2 separate regions of the Homo sapiens genome follow, and region 2 is linked to region 1. The links come from fine-mapping of genetic effects on gene expression. A gene starts in region 1. The other region holds a variant in brackets. All regions are shown on one strand. Distances are from middle to middle.

What was found.
Region 2: its variant is fine-mapped to the expression of RTKN2 in whole blood (TOPMed, PIP above 0.99).

What each region holds. Positions count from the first base shown.
Region 1 is chr10:62,267,517-62,270,434 of GRCh38, forward strand. RTKN2 (rhotekin 2) reads right to left here and starts at 1,328. Exons shown (of 12, transcript NM_145307.4): 1 at 1,035-1,328. The coding sequence starts at 1,094. The region is part of intron 1 of LINC02621 (long intergenic non-protein coding RNA 2621); the gene reads left to right. RefSeq lists a silencer at 1,080-1,409.
Region 2 is chr10:62,210,082-62,212,999 of GRCh38, forward strand. The region is part of intron 9 of RTKN2 (rhotekin 2); the gene reads right to left. Among named protein-coding and RNA genes, the nearest start is that of LINC02621, 48 kb to the right of the region's middle. The variant CCTTA/C (reference allele first, on the strand shown) is at 1,693.

The DNA.
Region 1 (2,918 bases):
GAAAATGCTGGCATAAAACAGCATAAGTATTACTGATAAAGACACTGGACTTCTTTTGCATAATGAATCTTAATGTCTTGCTTTATTTTTCACAGTATTATTGAAAACTAATAATTTTGTGTCTGCTAAGGAAATCCCAGATTTTTAAACAAAGATATCAGGTGCCTCCATATGAATGAAATTGCAAATATTCTACCAATTTTGACCTACAAAACTGGCAATTTCATATGGCTTAACCTATTTCTGAAGTAGGTAAAAGAAGGTAGAGATTAAAATAGAAGTGAAGGTCCAGCTTAAAGACATCAGAGTTTTCTTTTAAGACCCTAAAGTTATGGTTAAGAGTGAAAAGTGGTAACATTTTAATAACTGATGCTGCCAAGAAATAATGTTGGTTTAGTAAAAAGTAAAATAAAAAGGTTTCTAACGCATTTTACATGGCTCAAAAGCAAACATCAAACTTCTATCCAATGTCACGTGTACTCCCTCTTTCCTTTCAAATGATTTGAGAAAGAACCCAGTATCAAACCTTCAACTTTTTCTAAAGTGCAGAGGTTGCTGTTTGCCTCTACTCCGCTCCGAACCCCCTCCCCCCAACCAGTTCTGTGTTGTGTGTAGACATCGCTCCATTACTGTGCTTCCCATTAAATCCGTAATAAGCCAGCTGTCCACTGGCCTCGCTGGGTTTCTTGGGAATCGAGGGGCTCCCATTTCCCCGGCATCACCTACACCTGCAAAAAGACAGGCGTCCAAAGCCTGGGGAGGGCAGCGGACAGGTGCGCCCGCAAACGCGCGCCTGGACCCCGGCACCGCCTTCCCAATCCGGACCTCAGCTGCCTGAGAAACTCGGGGGTTCCGATGTCCAGGCCCTTTAGAGCCCCAAGAGCGCAGTCTCCTAATCCCTCCCTTTGTTTCTGGCCACCGCTGAAATAGAGGAGCGGGGGAGAGGCTTTCCCGACTCCTCCACAAAGCAAATGCGCGAGGAACAGAACCCCGGCTCCCTCACCTTCCGCGGCAGGGTCCCTCCCGCAACTCACCTGCTGGGTGGGAAGCCCCGCCAGGCGGAGCGCAGGACCCCTCAGGCTCGGCCCCTCCATCTCCAACGCGAACTGTCCGGGCCGTCGCCACTCCTTCAAAGGGAAGATTTGAAAAGCCCGCCCCTGGCAGGAGCCGCAGAGGACGCCAACCGCCCGGCCGTACCAAGTCCCAGTCGCAGGGGCCGGGGGCGCAGGAGGAGCCGGGCCGAAGCGCACGCGCAGTGGGCGCGCCTTGCGCTCTGCAGCTCCCGCCGCCGGAAGTTGCCGAGACCCCAGGCTCTAGCGCGGCGGGGCGGGGGAGAGGGCGGCGGTGCCGGACTTAAGTCCCGGACAGGGATGTGGGCGGGCCTGGGACGGGAGTGGGAGGGGCCGCGGGGAAAGCTTCGGCGGCGGAGCGCACCTGTCCCAGCTCAGGTTTCTGGCTGGTGGTTTTCGTGGCACGCCCTTTGCACTGGGAGCTTTCTGCCCGCATCCCACCGAAGGCCTTCCAAAGTGATCGTAGCTGGACAGACTCGAGGCTGCAGTCCCTGTACTCCCAGACAACTCAGGAACCCACAGCGTCACTAAGAGCCCACGGTCTCGTTCCTAAAGAACCAATAACATTACTCTCAAACACAGCGCTCTCTGTTTCCTCTCACCTTTCCCAGCGTTGTCACCAGGGTCACCCAGATATCATGGTTTTATTCATCAGGTTCGTGAGATACTATGTCAGGCATTTCACAAGGTCTTGTCTTTGCCCCCAGTGTTTATAATCCCAGATGTTCCCCGCCAACTACTCTGTCCACTTACTTTGTTTTCTTGCGAAGGATTTCTTTCAGCTCTCTCGCCCTCTCTTTCCCTCTCCAACATCTAAGGTGATAGCAAAATGGGGTACTATTTCTCAAGAGCCTCATTTCTTGCTGCCCTAAAGATTAGCACAAAGACCCATTTTAATTCATGGATTTTGTTAATTATAAAGGGAAACATGGGATTTTTAAAAATCAAAATGAAAGCAGCAAAGATATCACACCCTTGAAAAGTCCTTAAAATTCATTGTCCCTAGTTTATCTTTATTTCCCCCTTGAAAAGGCAAGAGGAAGCCTCTTCTTGAAGAGTCTACCAAATCAACCCTCCAGCCCTCATCGCCTAGAAACCCTTGGGCATTTTTCCTCCATAAATAGGTGCCCATGTTTTTTCATTTGCCTGGGACAGACCCTGTCTGGGTCTGTTGTCCCAATGTTGCACCAATCTTGCACTTATCCCGTAGTGGATATTATGTGGTCATTTTAACTGCAAGACCCTTTTAAAAGCAGTTGGTTTGAGAATGTACTTTAAAAATATAATGGATACCCTTCCTCAAATAGGTAAAATGCCTCTTTAAGACCTTTTGGACTAGGTGATACTAGAAGCTTCCCAGTTGGGAATGATGGTCCCCTTGCATTATGAATGACCCATATCCTTACAACAATAAAATATGTGTTCAAAATTATCAACACGGAGCTCACCTCGTTTTCTACAAACACAGGTCTGAATTTCAGAATCATTATGTGCCCTTTCCTCCAATGCACATCTCTGTCTTATGCTACCACTTTGTGGTATAATTATCTCCTACTCAGTATGAGGCTGCATGAGCCTAGCTGTAGTACCTGACTCAAAAGAAAAACACACCGCGAGCCCATCATCAGACACATAGTACTTACAACACATACAGCTCTCAGTTGCAGATCAAAATACATGTAGAAGCCAGCACTTCATTAAAACAGAGGTGAGTCAACCAGTTTAGAATTGGACACTGATAGAGGAGTATTTGATGAGTTAAAACCAGATATTTAACTGGAGATACATTTATTTATGATACTAGAAGAAAGAGATTAGGCAAGATCATATTTAGTAATTATCTGTAGA
Region 2 (2,918 bases), 57 kb before region 1:
AATGTATGAGCATTCCTTTTTCTAAAGAGACTTAAAAGACCTAATCAATCAACCATAATATGTGGCCCTTATTTGGATCCTAACTCAAAAACTTACAAAAATTGAGACTAGGGATCTTAAAGACTGCCTGGATTTTTAACGATATATTAACTACATATAATTATATCTACATATGACAACTTATATATAAAACCATAAATTTTCTTAAGTGTGACAATTGGAATATTTACAAGTAAAATGATATGGTCTCTAGGATTTGCTTCAAAATATATCTAATGTGGGGGCAATGTGTGAGAGTACACATGGGTTCATTTATACTATTCTATGTATAAATTACCTTGAATTTTTTTCCAAAGAAAATAATTAAAAAATAAAATACAAACACAAAAACCAAAGTCAGTCTATTATTAATGCCTCTTTCTTGGCTGTAATGCAGATATCTCACATCTTCCTTACAAACATGCTGTAAAGATAAATGAGTTATTTGAAAAGTGCTTCGTCTGAAGTCCTGTTAATCAGCAATGAAGACAAAATGTTGGTGCTAAAAACAAGCTTTAGACTTTATATATACTCTAATGACAAAAAAGGATATCTTCATGTATACGACAAGGAATGTTTGAAATATGTAATGCATAGCTGTAAGTTAAACCAACCATGAGGTATGATTAGTATCAGTTTAATATAATTATTTTAAATTTATATTAATTAAATCAGATGTAAACTCCTACAGGAAAATGTTTGAAAAATTATTTTTGCTATATTTACTTTTAAAAATCTGAATAGTTGATATGATTAGATATTAAGGAAACTAATATAATTGGATTAAAATCCCATGTGCTTCATAATAATTTTGCTTTCTAGGTTCTATGATAAATATAATAGTTAAAAGTATTTTCAAAACAATTTATCCAAAGTCTACTACACTAAATAGTGTTATTGACTTGTTTAGTACAGATTTTATTAAAATGAATGATGTATATAATATTTAAAACAAGAAAAGGCTTGATCTCAAAGACTCACACTTTTTTTTAACCGTCACACCCCTCACCATATTGACAATGGATAAAGCTTTAGTTAACAAAATGCTTTCTATAATGTGTAGGAAATTCAGTTAAGTACCTGTTATTGAGAATGTCTTGCTCAAGAACATTCTTGTGAAGTTTTCTGAATTTGAAGCAATCACTTTGAAGTAAATCACCCTTTCAAATTTGGATTGACAATGGGAGGGGAATAGCTCTTAGGCTTTTCTTCCCTTAATGTGACTATTTCCACAGATGGCTCCCTATGAAAATTAATGAACTAACTTAGCCTTACAAGAAATGCCATTTAGAAGGACAAGAATTATAGCTTGAGAACAGATCCTGTGATCTAAATAACAGAACTATTATTTATATACCTTAGCAATTGTGAAATTTATGTTTTCAAATAATTTTTAAGTAGCATTAAGGAAAATTATTTTCATGAGAAAAGAAGAAAGACAATCAAAAGACAAAAAACTCTGATTTGTATTTAATGTTTAACATTATTAAGCTTAAAGATCTTAGAGACCATTAGAAATATACTAAAAACTAAAAGAGAAACACTATTCTTTTTTCTTGAGATGGAGTCTCACTCTGTCACCCAGGCTGGAGTGCAGTGGCACAATCTCGGCTCACTGCAACCTCCACCTCCCAAGTTCAAGCAATTATCCTG[CCTTA/C]CTTAGCCTCCCGAGTAACTGGGACTACAGGCGTGTGCCCCCATGCCTGGCTAATTTTTTGTGTTTTTAGTAGAGATGAGGTTTCACCCTGTTATCCAGGATGGTCTTGATCTCCTGATCTCCTGATCCGCCCGTGCTGACCTCCCAAAGTGCTGGGATTACAGGCGTGAGCTACCGCACCCAGCCGAGGAACACTATTCTTAAAAGTTTTACTTGATCCTTACCTGCTGTATCAGAAAATACCAAACTGGTTTTTATCCTTTGTTTATTTAAGAATACATTGTTCGAGACCACCCTGGGCAACATGGTGAAACTCCATCTCTACTTAAAAAAAAAATATATATATATGGGGTAATTAAAACTTTTAGGTAAATAATAGTTATGGCCAGTAGCTAGCTGTTTTGTAGGCACTACCAACAGGGCACAGCGAAAACTTCAAAAATTAGCCGGGCATGGTGGTAGGTGCCTATAATCCCAGCTACTCAGGAGGCTGAGGCAGGAGAATAGCTGGAACCTGGGAGGTGGAGGTTGCAGTGAGCCAAGATGGCACCACTGCAATCCAGCCTGGGCAACAGAGTAAGACTCTGTCTCAAAAATAAATAAATAAATAAATAAATAGGAAAAAAAAAGAATATACTAAGAGACTGGGTATGGTGGCTCATACTTGCAATCCCAGCACTTTGGGAGGCTGAGGCAGGCAGAATTGCTTGAGCCGAGGAGTTTGAGACCAGCCTGGGTAACATGGTGAAACCCTGTCTCTACAAAAAATACAAAAATTAGCCAGGTGTGGTGGCACGTACCTGTAGTCCCAGCTACTAGGGAGGTTAAGGTGGGAGGATCCCTTGTGTCTGGGAGGTGGAGGCTGCAGTGAGCTGTGATGGCACCATTGCACTCCAGCCTGAGAGACAGGGCCAGACCCTGTCTCAAACAAACAAACAAACAAAAAACCAAAAAGAAAACGCTAATAGCATGTCTCCCTTACAAATCTGCAAGGTAAGAAAAACAATCAAAATATCTACATTAGATTTAAAAACCAAGTAATTTAAAACACTGAATAGATAAAAACCTATTAATTTATCACTATATGAGACAGTGAAGGTAGGGCAGGGAGGAAGATAACACTCATCTGCTACCCCTGGAGGGAGTAATATCAACTCCAATATATATTACCAATACCAATGCTATACCAATACATGACACCAACTTCTTACCCTGAAAATTG